Linked DNA regions of Homo sapiens. The protein of the gene in region 1 purifies or fractionates together with the protein of each later gene. This does not show direct contact. Each region holds a gene or a part of one and is shown on either strand. Other genes may lie near its edges. The genes, in order: NLE1, MTHFD1, HNRNPH3, SPAG7 and RRP1B.

The links.
Region 2: the proteins of NLE1 (region 1) and MTHFD1 fractionate together in Homo sapiens (co-fractionation; one large-scale study listed by BioGRID). This does not show direct contact.
Region 3: the proteins of NLE1 (region 1) and HNRNPH3 fractionate together in Homo sapiens (co-fractionation; one large-scale study listed by BioGRID). This does not show direct contact.
Region 4: the proteins of NLE1 (region 1) and SPAG7 fractionate together in Homo sapiens (co-fractionation; one large-scale study listed by BioGRID). This does not show direct contact.
Region 5: the proteins of NLE1 (region 1) and RRP1B purify together in Homo sapiens (co-immunoprecipitation; one large-scale study listed by IntAct). This does not show direct contact.

The regions. Positions count from the first base shown.
Region 1 is NC_000017.11:35,135,786-35,139,310, forward strand, and holds part of NLE1 (notchless protein homolog 1), read right to left. Parts: coding exon 3,450-3,525; intron 2,106-3,449; coding exon 2,029-2,105; intron 1,856-2,028; coding exon 1,758-1,855; intron 1,409-1,757; coding exon 1,216-1,408; intron 713-1,215; coding exon 577-712; intron 431-576; coding exon 384-430; intron 1-383. UniProt on the Homo sapiens protein: Plays a role in regulating Notch activity. Plays a role in regulating the expression of CDKN1A and several members of the Wnt pathway, probably via its effects on Notch activity. Required during embryogenesis for inner mass cell survival.
Region 2 is NC_000014.9:64,454,349-64,457,459, reverse strand, and holds part of MTHFD1 (C-1-tetrahydrofolate synthase, cytoplasmic), read right to left. Parts: intron 2,738-3,111; coding exon 2,585-2,737; intron 1-2,584. UniProt on the Homo sapiens protein: Trifunctional enzyme that catalyzes the interconversion of three forms of one-carbon-substituted tetrahydrofolate: (6R)-5,10-methylene-5,6,7,8-tetrahydrofolate, 5,10-methenyltetrahydrofolate and (6S)-10-formyltetrahydrofolate.
Region 3 is NC_000010.11:68,330,739-68,334,863, reverse strand, and holds the start of HNRNPH3 (heterogeneous nuclear ribonucleoprotein H3), read right to left. Parts: upstream 2,801-4,125; 5' UTR 2,648-2,800; exon of another isoform or gene 2,629-2,647; intron 2,081-2,628; exon of another isoform or gene 1,762-2,080; intron 1-1,761.
Region 4 is NC_000017.11:4,961,748-4,964,818, reverse strand, and holds part of SPAG7 (sperm-associated antigen 7), read left to right. Parts: intron 1-3,071.
Region 5 is NC_000021.9:43,690,553-43,693,587, forward strand, and holds part of RRP1B (ribosomal RNA processing protein 1 homolog B), read left to right. Parts: intron 1-886; coding exon 887-950; intron 951-2,637; coding exon 2,638-2,831; 3' UTR 2,832-3,035. UniProt on the Homo sapiens protein: Positively regulates DNA damage-induced apoptosis by acting as a transcriptional coactivator of proapoptotic target genes of the transcriptional activator E2F1.

The DNA.
Region 1 (3,525 bases):
GTGTCTGTATATTAAATCTCTGGAAGGTGATTCAGGATACTGGTGGCACTGGATGCTACAATAGAGACGGGAGACTCCGCGATCTACCTTTTGTATTTTTTGAACGTGAATGTGTGAACAATCTTAAACAACAAATTAAAGTAAAAAAGAAGCATGTTGGAAATGTAATAAATAGACAAGCAAATAAACTAAACAAAAAACGAAATAAAATGATCTCTAGCACATTAGTATTTTAGGATTGCAAACTAGGATTATGAAGAACAACTTTTTGGAATAGGTACATTCTGAGCTGGGTCTAGAAGGGAGAAGGGTCTGAGAGGGTTTTAGTGATTGGCTAAGGACTGGTACAGAGCTAGGGGTGCACGTGGCTGGCACACACTCACCCGCACGAGGTTGTATCGGCTCAGAGCCCTCTCCTTCAACTCCTGCACTGTGACCAGGTACCGGAGGGGAGAAAAGGAGATGAGGAAGAAGGCCGATAAGAAAATCCAACACAAAGAGCAAACACTCCCCATTAAGCTTGAGAACTGGCTCCTTCCCAATCAGCCCCCGCTCTTCCTTCTCCCAATCACTCACAGGATCCTTGGAGGTCTTGGGGATTAACTGAGGCCTCAGCAGGTTCAAAGGCCCCAGTGCGCAGGGCATAGTCAGTGCTGAGGGCCATGGTGTTCACCCAGTGGCCGTGGCCTTGCAGAGTCCGGCACAGCACACCCTACGGGAGAGCGAGTCAGGTCAGACACACACACTCCTCCCCACGCCTGGGCGATTAGCCCCAGGAGACAGGTGGTACAAGACTAATAATCATCATCACTCATGCATTGTGATCTTAATCAAACTACCCCTCTGGGGTCAAGTCTCTCCCCACTTGTAAAATGGAGTCCAGATCATGAAAATGTTTCATGGAAGAGGAGTTAGGGATGTCAGAGTAAACGGCTCCTGTCCAATACATTTGGGATATGGTAGATCTGATAAAGCCCAACAGCTGTCCTACAGGAGGAATTTCCAGAGTGTGACGATCTCATGGGGACTCTGCAATCTCCACTATGGTGCAGCACCAACCACAGAACTCCTCATTCCCAAAACACCTCCCTAGACCAGGGCTCCCAGCACACATCTGGGAAACACTGGACTCGCTGATGTCAAGGTCATTCTGAGTGCCAGCATCTTGTGACTTGCGATTTTCTGGACTGGTTTCTGAACCCTCCCAGCACTTACGTCATGAGCTCTCCAGACTTTGATGGTGCGGTCCTGGGAGGCAGAGTAGAGAAGCCCGTCCCCTCCCCACCGGAGACAGGTGACCGACTGGGTGTGCCCGGTGAGGATGCGCTCACAGCGGCCTGCAGTTGTGTCCCAGATCCGCACACTGCCATCCTTGGAGCTGCTGGCCACATAGCGGCACTCAGGGTTCCTGGAGAGAAGGGAGATGTGACCTCATCTGTGACCTGGCAACATCTGTGTGCCCATGGCACCTCCCCATTCCCAACTTAAAGGCCATGGACAATCTTTTGACAGCTTTTCTGACACCAAGACCCGGCTGCACTGCAAGGTGACTGCAACCAGCAGACCCTGTGATGAGAGCCTCTCCCAAGCAGCAATGCAGGTCTGCCCGAGACCCTTCTCCCATGCCTGCCAAGCCATCACGGTCATTCAGGCTGCCCATCTTGTCCCCTCACGTAAAACTTCTATGCATTGGGCAGGGAAAGGGGATGGCTTTGATCCCCTGGCTCATTTGTCCCAGCTCCGTCAGTGTCACTTACGCATGGAGGGGCTCCCAGCTCAGGCCTGTGATCCACTTGCTGTGGCCAGCGAGGGTCCTGCCCACCTGCTTCCCTGTGCTTGGGTCCCAGAGGAGAATCTGAAGGACAGAAGCTCACTGAATAATCCTCCCCAACAGGTCTCTGGCTCCACCAAAATCCCTGCCTACCACTTCCCACCCAACCCTCCCCAAAGACTCCTGAACCTGATTCTGAACTGTCTCCTAGGAAGGCCCCCTTGAGTCTCTGCCTAGTTACCCTGAGAACTACCTACCTGGCCATTCTTGCAGCCTGAGGCCAGCTTCCTGCCATCTGGAGACCAGGATATACTAAGGACCCAGTGTCTGTGTCCTAAGAAAGCAGAGGAGGGAGAAATAAGGGACTACATCTGTCTTTATCCCAAGTGCCCAGCAGTGCCTGTCAGGTGCCAGGTACTCCTTAACCATTTGAATAAATGAATGATTGAACAAAAGGAGCGATGAGGCTTTCTGGGGATGGATAGAATGCACCCCAAGTGTTAGAGCTCTGCATCTTGCTGCATGGATAACACCATCACTCTCTAATGACTCCTTATGTGACACATGCTATGAAGTGTTTTTGTACATGTCATCCCTTGTTATTTCTCACAAGAGCTCTAAGCTATGGAGCAAAGCAAGAATTATCATCCCCATTTTCCAGATGAGAAAATTGAAGCTTAGAAAGGGAACATGCCCTACACACACAAGGTCACTTAACTAATCTGTGGTATAGCAGTGGTTCTTCAAGTGTGGTCGTCAGAGCAGCAGCATCAGCATCTCCTGGGAACTTGTTAGAAATGCAGATTCCCAGGCCCTACCCCAGGCCCAATAGAACTAAACCTCTGGGGGTGGGGCCCAGCAATCTGTATTTTTTTCTCTCTTCTCTTTTCTCTCTCTCTCTTTCTTTCATGGAGTCACACTCCATCACCCAGGCTGGAGTGCAGTGGTGCCATCTCGGCTCACTGCAACCTCCGCCTCCTAGATTCGAGCAATTCTTCTGCCTCAGCCTCCCCAGTGGCTGGGATTACAAGCACACGCCACCATGCCCGGCTAATTTTTGTAGTTTTAGTAGAGATGGGGTTTCACTGTGTTGGCGAGGCTGGTCTCAAACTCCTGACCTCAAGTGATCTGCCTGCCTTGGCCTCCCGAAGTGCTGGGATTACAGGTGTGGGCCACCACGCCTGGCCAGCAATCTGCATTTTAACAAGCCCCTGAGGCGGGGCAATTCTGATTTGTGCTCAAGTTTGAAAACCACTGTGGCAGAGGCAGGATTTAAACCAGGTTCTCCTTGGTAGCAGTCAGTCAGCCTCTCACCATGTCCCATATTGACTCCTTGGTGCAGTTTCTGCTTGTGTCTAAGTGGCTGGCTGGGCTCAAGGACATGGTCTCTACCTAGGAACAGACAGCCGCCAACTGGATATTAAGGGGTTGTAATCTGCAAAGTGAGACCCTCATCTGTATGAAAACAAAAAACGAGCCAGGTGTGATGGCAAGTGCCTGTCATCCCAGCTACTCTGGAGGCTGAAGTAGGGGGACTGCTTGAACCCAGGAGTTCAAGGCTTGAGCCCAGGAGTTCAAGTGAGCTGTGACTGCACCACTGTACTCCATCCTGGTCAACAGAGCAAGACCTTGTCTCAAAAAAAAAGAAGACCCCCTAAATGGCTAATTGCATACTGACCCTTGCATGTGAAATGTGGTGTCTCTGTGCTGAGATCCCAGAAGCGCACGGTGGTGTCTCCAGAGCCACTGGCCAG
Region 2 (3,111 bases), on another chromosome or scaffold:
GGAAAAGAAAAGAAACTGATTCCTCATGTCCTTCTGCAAACCAAATGCCAGCCTTCACTATCATCTTCCATGTGGTCACAAGCAGTAGCAGGAGGTGTTTCCACCTTCACCTTACAAGAATGAGTGCTGGGGAGTAGAGGAGTTGCTCACTCGCCTCCTCAGCTCACGCTTTGCAAGACCAAAAGGAGGTACAGGGCTTGCCTGCTTTTAAATTTTGTTTCGTTCAGTCTTGCTAGCTGAGCTGCCCATGTGATTTTTGCTTCAGCAACACGATGGTAGGAGTTAGTATCCTTTAACTTGGGCCAAGACACTTTTGTACATAATCTAGATGGTTTTATAATCACCATTCTTACTGGCCCAAAATGGCCTTCTAAAACTAAACTTGTAATGCTTACAAATTATATTTGTACTCACTACTTTTCTAAAGACTCGGCTTTGACAAATTTCTACTTAGATGCAAATATGTACGGCTTGCAAGTGAAAACTCCGTATATTTTTATCTGTAACAATGTCCTATATAATGAATACACACAAGTTCCAAATCAAATCTAGACAGGAAAACAGCTTAGGTTACTTCTAAAACTTAACTATAAAAAGGTTATTTAAAAAGAGTCATCTTCTGTAACACAAAACATCATCAATACTTTAGAAAACCTCATTCTGACTGACTTCTGAGTACCAATCAATATTCCCCAAAACACATTATAGGGATCTGACAACTGGTTTATATTCTTATATTGTGTAAGAGGTAAGGAGGTGCTAGGTGTGAGACAAGTAGGAGAGAGGAAAGGATGGGTCCTTAGACACAGCAGAAAAACCGGAAGATGACATTATAAAGATAAAAGACACATGCCCATTGTTGTAGACGGGCATGTGCATGTCAGCAGAAAACCCTAAAGATGGTTCCCTAAACAGTGATGAGTAGGATTTTTGATATTTTCACTCATTCCCCAAGAGGATTTTCCCTCCTAAACACTGGTCACTGATAATCAGAAAAAATACAAAAAAAGACAATATTATGTGTACGCACATGTATGAACCTAGATATAAAGTTCTGAAAATAAGCCATCACACTTTGAATTAATATAGAAAATATTCAAATAATCTGAGTCTCGTTAAGGCCCCAACGGCAACTGGAAGGTGTTAGAATAGTGATTAAACCATTTGATCATGTGTGGAAACGCCTTGGTCCAACTTAAAGTTAAAAGCCTCTGACACATACTTTGTTCTAAATGAGAAAGTCTTGAGTTCGGCAGGCTGTGTCTCTCTCCACCTTACAGCCTGACTCTCACTGGCCTGACTGCTTCCAGATTTGCTTTCACCTCTACTGTTACCCTTTTCTTCATGTGAAGATCAAAAGTGACAAGAAAGAGTACAGCTACCCGTCTTTCAGCTGGTAGCTGCTGACAACTTCTCCAAAAAGAACAACACATATTTCTGCACTATTCAAGGTGCTGGGTAAAAATGGTGGAAAATTCCTACCACAAGGGATTTCTACAAATCCTGGAGACTGATGTACATCATAGCAAGTCTAAGCCTTCTGCTCTCTATAGAGAGCTAAGGAGGCAGTGAGATGCAGGCATTTGTGCTAAGCACCACTGTGATGTGATGATGTTGCCTACAGTGTGAGCTGAGGGCAGCAGGGCTCTCACCTTTCATAATTTGCCCAAGGCCAAGATCTGAAGAGGTGAAAATGAATTCAGCTCTAATGTCCTACGTTTTCAACTCTATAATGCCACCTCCTACCACTTTCTTACTATACTGAAAGAATGACATAAATCCAAAAGGATGTATGTTGGTTTCTTTTCCATGTGTGTTGATTTAGTTTAATATTTCAGTCCTGTATTGCATGGCAGTACAATCTGTAGATACAGGATACAGGGCAGATTTAGGGGATAACCTAGATTCAGGATCCAAGTTAACCTTGGAACAATGTCAGCCCAAACTATGATTATGTCCTTAAGCATCCCTCCCCTCTGCTTCCCAACTGGCAATATTCTTCTTTGAATATGCATAAAATCTGTAAGATAAGAAAGCAATGGACACCTTGTTCACCTTGAAGCGTAAATAAGCAACCTCACCTTTCATATCTCAAGGGTCCATTTGCATTTTTTAATGGGGAAATTCCTTACTTAAAAATAATGAACCCCCTGAATTTCAGACGTAAGTTCTAGGCCTGTCAGTAAAACCTCTGTCCCTACCTCCTAGGGCTGTGGGGGGACTGAGTTAATCTATGTAAGGCTCCCAATAAACATTAACTGTGATTATGTTAGCACTACCCCAGCCTATCAACTGGGCTCATCCTAGATTCAGTGAAGAGCATACTGTCCCTGGGAAACAGAATTTTTTATTCAGTATGAGTAGTCCTGGCATCATTCTTGATTTGACACCAAGATGGTCCACAGCAAGAGCTATATAGCTCCTGCTTTATAGCTTATGATCCACAGCAATCATAATAGGCCCGATTCCAATTTTCTTCTGGGCAGTGAACTCTGCTCACTTGGCATTTGCTTGATGGTTTCGGCAACACACTTCAGACGAGAAGTGCAGATGCGCCCACTACTCCCTTGCAGCATGCACTTACCGTTCCTACTAAGGGGTACAGAAAACCAGCCCCAACGCTGGCGCGGATGTCGCGAATGGGCAGAATGAAGCCTGTAGGGACACCTTTTTGCTCTGGGTTGTGAGACAAAGACAAGTGTGTTTTAGCCATGCAGATGGGGAGATTCCCAAAGCCCTGGGGAAAGAAGGGAAGAGAGGGAGGACAAATGAAAAGATGACAACCCAGCAATGACCATCTGGGCCCTGTGATTACATGGATTCTTCAATTTATTCGAAACATCCAACTCCCTTTATATACATCTCTATCTTGCTGTCCTCCAGCTTATTTATTAAGCCAAAAAAAAAAAAAAAGAACTGTTGGGTGAGGGAGTTAGGTACTCACAACTGTAGTCCACAAGTGAATATTTTATTTCCATCTATGGAAATAACATAAAACTAATTTAAAATAATAGTTTGGAGTAGATATGAGAATAAAATTGGAGAGGGTCAGGTGCAGTGGTTCATGCCTATAAATTCCAGCACTTTGGGAGACTGAGATGGGTGGACTGC
Region 3 (4,125 bases), on another chromosome or scaffold:
ACTTAAAACAGTTTACTAATTATTCAGGATAATCCACCTCAACCTTTCTTTGCAACAATGTCATGGCTAATCACTACTCTGCTTTAAGAATTCTAGGTGCTAGTACCAATAAAAGATACCACAGTTAAAATATGAGGATAGCTTTGGTCAAGTTTTATGAGACTTTAAGTATAATTTTCTAAACATTACACCAAGTGAAACAAGCCAGTCACAAAAGACTACATATTGCATGATTCCATTTCTATTCATGATTGTCTGAGGCTTGAGGGGAGGGAGGATGCCAGCAATGGGAATGACCAGTAAAGGGTATGGATATCTTTTTGGAGTGACAAAAATGTTCTAAAATTAAATTGTAGTGACGGTCACACAACGCTGTGAATGTACTAAAATCCACTAAACTGTACATTTAAAATTGGTGAAGTTTACGGTATGTGAATTATATACCAAAGTCGTTAAAGAAAAAAAATCCACTAAAGAACAAATGAAATAGAGAATCCTCTTAACACGGAGGCATAGCCTATCTTCTGAAGTAATACATAAAGGATTTTACATCAATAAATAACTTTCTAAATGGTAGCCCAGTGGTCAAGAAATGAGAATGAATTTTATTTTTTGGAAAAAGTGCTGATGATTTAAGTTTAACAGAAAATTTACATCATTCCTTCCCAATGGGCTTGCTCTTTACAAAAACAAAAAACTAGACACACCCCTAATAGCTTAAGGAGGTAAGGTCTCTAAAATGTTAGTTCACTAGAACCAGGTTTTTATCTACTGCAGTTCAGTCAGTTTACCAAAACAAGGAAATCAAAGATAACATTATTTTAAAAAGGCAATTAGATGGATTTCCAGATAACGGCACAAATGAAAAGAGGACAGAAAAAAGATGTGTAGTCCAATCCAATTAGTAAAGCTATTTGTTATATCATATATAACTTTACAGGACAGTCTGGACTATCTCTTCAAAGGGTCACTCAAACCTACTGTTTCAAGGTAAGATTTTCGTAAACTTTTCCTTGGCAATCTTGAGAAAGCATCACTGAACATCTTCAATAATAATAAGTTTTTGTTTTTAGAGCTGGAAAAGTAGGTAACAATATTCTTATAAAGTTTTACATGAATTATCAGAAATTCTTACTCTCAGGCCTTTCTCCTCCCTTTTGTACTGTCTTCAATGAAAATTACGGATCCAGTTCTCAGGACCCTCATCCGAATCACACCACCACCACGTGACTGGGTTTACAATTTGTTTTTATGTTTAGTAGGCTTATTCCCTTGTTTAAAATACGATTACAGTGTACTATACTCCTACACTAAAGAAAAAACATGCCTAGCTACCAAAAGAAAATAAACCATAACCGTATTTTGAAGTATTTTACTTCTAGAGCCTTAATGCCATCGGAAAAAAAAACTGCACAAAATACAACTCTTGGAAGATTTAACATCGAAAGCTCAATTTCAATACACACACATCTACCATCACTGGGTTGTTTTAACTGTTTCCCAAAAGTAAAACTTAAAAACAAATTCTAACATATATACGCCAAACTACGCAAAACAATTGCTACATCACCCACCCCCACCCCGAAAGTTCAAAAAGCAACAATTATAGTTCACTGGGCCCAGACGACCTACTTGAAACATGCCCATTTCACATTCCTATTTGATAAATCACCCACTTTTCTGCTCACAAAATCATCCCCGAAGTCCTTATTAACGTTTAAACATGAAAAAAAAAAAACCCTTTGGAAAATCAGTACGTACTCTTTTCGAAGTTCCAAATCTGGAATATAAGGGCCGGCTAAGCGTCCTTTATTCCTCCCAGGAGACTTTCCGTTTATCTAGCTGCCCTAGAGACCAGAAAGCTAGGGAGAGTACGCCCCTTCCCCCTCCCGTCAGCAGCCAAGCCTGGCTTAAAACCCTTCGCCACCGGGCGGCAGAATTACAAAGGAGGCCGTCTGCCTCCTTTGTCCTGGATTTGGGAGTTGAGCACCTTCGTCGCCATTGGCTTTCCTCCCCCAGCTCCAGCCTCTCTCATCTTGGGAATCTGCGTCAGAAGTCACTCGCAGTCCCGTCAGCCCAGGTAGCCCTGCCGAGACTGCGGAGGAAGGGAGGCCGCGGTGGGAGGCCAGGCCCATCCGGCGCCATTTCCATCGGGAGCGCGCCCGGCAAACCCGATCCTCCCTCCACCCAACTGCCCGGCCTTTCCCTGCTCGCTTCACTACCCACCCTCATCCCTTCCAGGGAGCTTTGACCACCCCCTCCCCTGGCCTTCTAGATCAGTTTTCGGAAGCTGGGGAACAAAAAAGTAAAAAGAGCGGGGAAGGGCGGGAAGCCGAGGTGGCCGCGCCACTGTACCCAAAATGGCGGAGGCCAAGCCAGCAGGGAAAGGGGAAAATGCTGGATGTCCCCTACTTCGGGCCTCGGCGTCGTCCACTGAATTCCACCTGAGCAAGTCCTCCCATCGGCAAGCCGCCCTCCCTGAAGTGGGAGATGGTCGGGGAGGCGCAGCCCCGCCGCTTCCAAGCGGCGGCCTCCGAGCGGCGACCACCCCACTACCCCCCAACCCAGCCCCTCCCGGCCTTTCGTCCTTCTCCCGACTCCGCTCTCGAAACCACCAGCCCAACCTACCCCCTTTTACTTCAGATACCCTGTCAGGCGATAGTTACGCCGACTCTGGTGCTCGCGGGGTCCAGTTCAAAGAAGGGAGAAGTCGTTTGCCTCGTGTAGCGCTCGCCACAACGGTTCTCCCAACCGTCTCCAGCGGTGACAACCGCTTAGGGAGCTGCGCAGCACAGCTACTGGCTTGGGGGGATGGGAGGGAACGAGCAAGAAGTGGGGGGCGGAGCGAGAACTGCGAAGGCGGCCGGCCCCACTCTCGCGAGACGGGAAAGTCGGTTTCGCATGGCGCTGGCGGCACGCAGCGCGCCTGCGCGGTGGTGGGTTGCGCAGCTGTTGGGGGCGAGGTAGACCGAGCAGAGGCTGTTCCAGTTAAAGAGCTGCAGCGCGCACCGTTTTTCTTGCTTACGTTAGAACCATCCAGTTTTCAGAGCGTACCATTCTGCCGCCTCGGGGCGATGGCAATGGCAGTTCTGCCAGTGTGTAGAAGGAACCGTGCCGTAGCGCTCTGGAGAAGTTCTCCGGTGATCTGCCCCCACCGTGAACAAATTCTGTGAGGGCCCCGCCCTGGCTAGGCATCGACGGCGCGGAAAGGGCCCCACGTGGTTCGACCGGCAAACGCGGGGCGGATTTTCTGGTCCACCATGTTTGCATTGTGCGGTGAAAAATAGGAGTGTTTCTGGGCCGCGAAGATGAAAGCGTCCACTGGGGCCGATTTCGGCTCTCGGGCTGGGTGTCCGCCTCCTTCCCCTGGCCCAGAGTTGCTGGCCGCCCGCCAGCGCGCTTCGTCCCAATGTGCCGCGCGGGATCCGGGTTTCTTGGGTGTATTCATGTCCACCACGTTACCGTTCTCTCTGCAAATCCTTCCTCTTTTTCTCCTCTGGCCTTCGCGTTTTCATCTCTCCCGCCGTCAGTGCCTCGGAGACTGATTAGCCTGTGGAGGCCGACGTTGGGTTTTTTTTATAGTTTTGCGTTGTTGAAAATTGCGCTTCCAAGTGACACCTAATAAATAAGTACATTTTGGTTTTGCTGTCATGTCACCAAGGTTCCTAATGACACATTATGGCTTTTTTTTTAAGTTCCAAAAAAGGCTGGCCGCGGTGGCTTACGCCTTTGAGAGGCCGAGGGGGAGGATCGCTTGAGCGTAAGAGTTGGAGACCAGCCTGGGCAACATAGTGAGGTGCTGTCTCTACAAAAAATACAAAGATTAGCTGGGCGTGATGGCAGCGCACGGGAGTAGATGGGACTCCCGAGTAGTCCCAGCTACACAGGAGGCTGGGCAAAAGGATGGCTTGTGCCCTGGAAGTTGAGGCTGCAGTGAGCCGTGATTGCGCCAGTGCACTCCAGTCTGGGAGACCGAGGGAGACTCTTGTCTCAAACACAAAGAAAAACCCCGAATTTCTGCGCAGAGGGTTAAGGGGAAGCCTGGTAAAGAGATCAGTGCAAGTTCATCCTGGCTAACACGGTGAAACCCTGTCTCTACTAAAAATACACACACACACACACACA
Region 4 (3,071 bases), about 30 Mb from region 1:
GGTTGCAGTGAGCCGAGATCGCGCCACTGCACTCCAGCCTGGGCACACAGCGAGACTCTGTCTCGAAATAAATAAATAAATGATGGGGAGAGGTTCAGTGCAGCTGGAGAGGATTCAGATCCTGGGGAAGAAGGAGGCCTTAAAGATGTAAAGGATTTGGCCGGGTGCGGTGGCTCACGCCTATAATCCCAGCACTTTGGGAGGCCGAGGCGGGTGGATCATGAGGTCAGGAGATCAAGACCATCCTGGCTAAAACGGTGAAACCTTGTCTCCACTAAAAATACAAAAAATTCTCCAGGCGTGGTGGCGGGCGCCTGTAGTCCCAGCTACTTGGGAGGCTGAGGCAGGAGAATGGCGTGAACCCGGGAGGCGGAGCTTGCAGTGAGCGGAGATTGCGCCACTGCACTCCAGCCTGGGCGACAGAGCGAGACTCCGTCTCAAAAAAAAAAAAAAAAAAAAAAGATGTAAAGGATTTGAAATGGCAAAAGAGAAAAAAATTTCAGGCTGAGGAGCAGGAGTAGGAAGAAGCATGCACCCAAATCTCTAGAGGTAGTAAAATCACATCGTGGGGAAGACAGGCAAGCATGGAGGGCCCGGGTTAGAAATTCTTCCTCCTCCTCCAGAGGCAGAGGGGATCTGGCGCAGAGGCAGGATCTAAGGAAGAGGAAGAAAGTTAAATAAGACCCTTAGCCAGGCGAGGGGACTCACAGCTGAAATCCCAGCACTTTGGGAGGCTGGTCTTGAACTCCCAGCCTCAAGTGATCCTCCCACCTCGGCCTCTCAAATTGCTTGAGAAGCTTGAGTCTCTGCACCCAGACCTGGCTAATTTTTTTAAAAAAAGTTTTCTGTAAAGATGGGGTCTCGGGCATCTTCAGGCAAGAGGCAGGCAGATACCTTGAGCCCAAGAGTTCAGAAAAAGAAGACCCTTCACAGCTAACCTTGGACACCTACACTCCCAAAGGAGAAGGGTGTCAGATTATCTATTTCAGCTTCATCCTGTCTATAGAAGTGGGAAGTGGGGGATTTTACAAAATATAGAAAGTTAAATAATTTCCCCTTTCCAGCTGGGCACGGTGGCTCAAGCCTGTAATCCTGGCACTTTGGGAGGCCGAGGCAGGTGGATCACAAGGTCAGGAGTTCGAGACCAGCCTGGCCAATATGGTGAAACCCCATCTCTACTAAAAATACAAAAATTAGCTGGGCGTGGTGGCACATGCCTATAGTCCCAGCTACTCAGGAGGCTGAGGCAGAAGAATCGCTTGAACCCAGGAGGCGGAGGTTGCAGTGAGCCAAGATCGTGCCACTGCACTCCAGCCTGGGCGACAAAGCGAGATTCCATCTCAAAAAAAAAAAAAAAAAAAAAAAAATTCCCCTTTCCTGTGTAAACGAGATGACAGACTCTTTGAGGCCAGGGTCTTAGTCTGTTTTCCTCACCTTCCCAGATGCATTATGGTTTGTTTTTGTTTTTGTTTTTGACAGGGTCTTGCTCTGTCACCTAGACCTCTCAGGCTCAAGTGATCTTCCTACCTCAGCCTCCCGAGTAGCTGGGACTACAGGCATGCATCATCATGCCTAATTCTTTATTTTTTATAGAGACAGGGTCTCACTATATTGCCTGCACTGGTCTGGAGCTCCTGGCCTCAAGCAGTCCTCCCACCTTGGCCTTCCAAAGTACTGGGATTACACACGTAAGCCACCACGCTCAGCCCAAACATTTATTTAATGCCCACAATGTACAAAGAACTAACTATAGTCCAGGCATGGTGGTTCACACCTATAATCCCAGCACTTTGGAAGGTCAAGGTGGGAGGATTACTTGAGGCCAACTGGAGACCAGGATGGGCAACAAACTGAGACCCCATCTTAACAGAAAACTTAAAAAAAAAAAAATTAGCCAAGGCTGGGTGCAGAGGCTCAAGGCTTTCAAGCAATTTGAGAGGCCCAGGTGGGAGGGTTATTTGAAGCCGAGTTCGAGACCAGCCTGGGCCCACACTTGTAATCCTAGCACTTTGGGAGGCTGAGGCGGGCGGATCACGAGGTCAGGAGTTCGAGACCAACCTGACCAACATAGTGAAACCCCGTCTCTAATAAAAATACAAAAATTAGCTGGGTGCTAATTGCACCCAGCCTGGGTGACAGAGTGAGACTCCGTCTCAAAAATAAAAATAAAATAAAATAAAAATACCATCCTGGGCAACATAGTGAGACCTCATCTCACAAATATTTTTAATTATTTTTTAAACAGTAGCTGAGCATGGTGGCACACGCCTGTGGTCCCAGCTACTTGAGAAGCTAAGGTAGGAGGATCCCTTGAGCCAGGGAGGTCAAGGCTGCAGTGAGCTGTGATTGTGCCACTGCACGCCAGCCTAGGCAATAAAGTGATATCCTGTCCCAAAAATAAATAGGCCGGGTGCAGTGGCTCACGCCTATAATTCCAGCACTTTTGGGAAGGTGAGGCGGGGGGATCACTTGAGCTCAGGAGTTCAAGACCAGCCTGGCCAACATGGTGAAACCCCATCTCTACTAAAAATACAAAAATTAGCCGGGTGTGGTGGCACATGCCTGTAATCCCAGCTACTTGGGAGGCTGAGGCAGGAGAATCGCTTGAACCTGGGAGACGGAGTTTGCAGTGAGCTGAGCTCATGCCACTGCACTCCAGCCTGGGTGACAGAGTGAAACTCCATCTCAAAAATAAATAAATAAATAGATATTTGTTAATTGGTTTCCCCAGTGGAGTTGGGAAAGGGGGTTAAGCATTATTCTGATCTTTGTCACTCCCACTAAACTGGGAGCTCTTGAAGGGCCACATTGTGTCTTAATAATCTCAGTACTTCAGGGTCTCGCCTGGTGCCAGATACAGTAGTCCCTACTTCTCCCTTATCCAAGGTTTTGCTTTCCAAGGTTTTAGTTACCTGCAGTCCAGAACTGTTATATACAGTAAGATATTTTGAGAGAGAGAGAGAGCATAGCCACAAACTTTTATTTCAGTACATTGTTATAATTGTTCTATTGTATTATTGTTATTCTTAATCTCTTTTTTTTTTTTTTTTTTTTGAGATGGAGTCTTGCTG
Region 5 (3,035 bases), on another chromosome or scaffold:
CTGTCCACAGTGGACAGGTTCCACGGCCAGGGTAGCATAAGGTCTGAGTGGTCTGGGACCCACCCTGAGGGATCACAGTCAGGAAGGGGACTTTGAGGGGCGGTTGATCCACACATTCTGCCTCCCAGGGCTTCCGGCTCAGGGTTTGCAGAAACCAGTTTTCTCTCGTGAAATGTCACAGTGTTAAACACAAGTGGTGCAAGTCAGCAGTAGGAGGTCCACACAGAAATGTGGGTCAGAGCAGGAACTTGAGGCAGTGCTTCCTGATGCAGGCTGGATCCACTTCCAGGAATGTAAGTAGGAAAGAAGATAGTTGATTGTGGTGAACTGTTGGGATATGCAGATAGCTCAGAGTCCTTGTGCACAAAAAGCTGGAAACTGTGTGTCCATTGTCCATTGCAGTGAGATTCCATCATAGGCATCGTCTCATCGATGTCATAGAGTCTTCAAGTTAGAAGTTCAGAACTCTCCAGCAAAAGGCAGGGGAGTCTTGGCATTTTTCCTCACGGGTTCTCAGTGGTGAACTGTTTTTAGGACAGTTCAGGCATCCTCTCTGTTTGCCTTTCTTCCCTGGATCGTAGAACCCTGCAGCGGTAATGAGGCAGTGACCGCAGATGGGCCAAGAGTGTGGGCACCACTGACCCTGGGCTGGGGGGTTGCGTGTGTGGGACGCTGGGAAGGACAAAGGGCGGTCCTGGTGAAGCCCCGACAGGAGGGTCGGTTTCAGTCTTGGCCGCAGTCCCTTTGGCCTCTCCCTATATGTGCCACTCAGTAAGCAGCAGTGTGGGCGGCATACCCTCCAGGGCAGGTTCTCCAGAAAAATCTGACTAAGCGCCTCCACTGCACTTGCGTCACTCCTTTTGTTCCTGTTATTTCTCTTCTGCAGCTAAACAAGACACCATCCAGCTCCAAGAAAGTCACCTTTGGGCTGAACAGAAACATGACTGCCGGTAAGTGGGGTTTTGCCAGCGGCAAGCTTCTCTGGAGCACAGCTGCAGCTCCTGGCGCGGCTCGCAGCCTGGTTCCACAAGGCGGTCGGGGAAGAGGGGGGTCCTAGCTCCTCACTGCCCATTTCTTTATTTTTATTTTTTTTTTTTTTTTGAGACAGAGTCTCGCTGCTCTGTCACCCAGGCTGCAGTGCAGTGGCGAGATCTTGGCTCACTGCAACCTCCGCCCCCCCAGGTTCAAGCGATTCTCCTGCCTCAGGCTGCCGGGTAGCGGGTAGCTGGGATCACAGGTGCACGCCATCACATCCAGCTAATTTTTGTATTTTTAGTAAAGATGGAGTTTCACCATGTCAGCCAGGCTGGTCTCAAACTCCTGACCTCAGGTGATCTGCCTGCCTCGGCCTCCCAAAGATCTGGGATTACAAGCGTGAGCCACCGAGCCCGGCCCCTCACTGCCCATTTCTGAGTCAGAAGGAAGCACCTATGTGTCTGTCCCTCATCCTCAAAGGGCTGTGAGTGGGGTGCCAGTGGTGAGTGGGCAGCCAATTGCCTGGGACCTGTTAAGAGAAGCTACCTGGTGAGACGTGATCCAAAAAGCCGTTTTCCCAAGTGTCTTTCTAAATACTGAAAGCCGTCCCATAGAGAGGCCATTTGAGATCGTAGTGCTCCATCAGCTGTAGCTGTCTCTCTGCGAAACTTCGGAACCACTTGCTTCTTGGGCGACAGAGAAGGGTAACCCCTATCTTCCTACTTTTCATATTGGTGCCATCCATTCGAGTTGCTTTTACAAAGGAAACCAAAGTTTTAAAAAGTAGTATAGGCCAGGCGCGGTGGCTCATGCCTGTAATCCCAACACTTTGGGAGGCCAAGGTGGGCAGATCATGAGGTCAGGAGTTCGAGACCAGCCTGGCCAACATGGTAAAACCCCGTCTCTACTAAAAATACAAAAATTACCTGGGCGTAGTGGCAAGCACCTGTAGTCTCAGCTGCTCGAGAGGCTGAGGCAGGAGAATTGCTTGAACCCAGGAGATGGAGGTTGCAGTGAGCCAAGATCGTTTCACTGCACTCCAGCCTGGGTGACAGGCTGGGTGAGACTCCATCTCAAAAAAAAAAAAAAAGTATTATAACGAATTTAGGACCTGACTCTTGTTGGGAACTGCAAGTAATAGAGAGTATGTGTATGTGTGAGTGTGTGTACATGCACCAGTATATATGTGTGTGTGCGTGTGCATGCACACATGCGTGAGTGTGTATGTTTAGGGAGAAGAGACTCTGAGAGACTGAGGAGCTCACCCAGCCTTTACAACTGGAGAAAATGAACAGTACGAATCCTGCAGCTCCACATAGCACAGATTTGTCCCAGACACAAATGCCTGGTTCACTCATTGTCCAAAACACCCCCACCCCCAATGTTCACCCTTCCAGGAGCCACCCTACCAGCAGCTCCCCTTAGTCTGTGCAGGCAGCCCTGGGCCCTCCCTTGGGAGGGTGAGTTGAGGCATGGGATGTGGCCTCACTGCCCTCCTTTCCTCAGAAGGCTCTTGGGCCTGCTCTCTGCAGGGCCTTGAGATGGCCCTGCTTCGTCCTAGCAAGTGGGTGGGGTCGGCACCCAGGCAGGACGCTGTCTAAGGTGTTGAAGGGACAGCTGTCGGACCCACTTAATATGGGGCCTTGCTCTCATTTGGGACAGAATTCAAGAAGACAGACAAGAGTATCTTGGTCAGTCCCACGGGCCCTTCTCGAGTGGCCTTCGACCCTGAACAGAAGCCCCTCCACGGGGTGCTGAAGACCCCCACCAGCTCACCTGCCAGCTCACCCCTGGTGGCCAAGAAGCCCCTGACCACCACACCAAGGAGAAGGCCCAGGGCTATGGATTTCTTCTGAGGAGCAGCAGAGTCCCTTGTAAAAGACTGCTTTTGTACAGAATGCGCTATAAATTATACCTTTAAGAATGTGGGGCCTTTTTTATGATTTTGTAAGTTCCCATAAGTTGTGTGCACGAGGTTCTGAGAGTGCCCGCAGGCTGCTGCGTCCTGGCCCCTCTGTAGTGGCTGCGGGCGTCTTGGTTGAATCTTTTGCTACAAACCA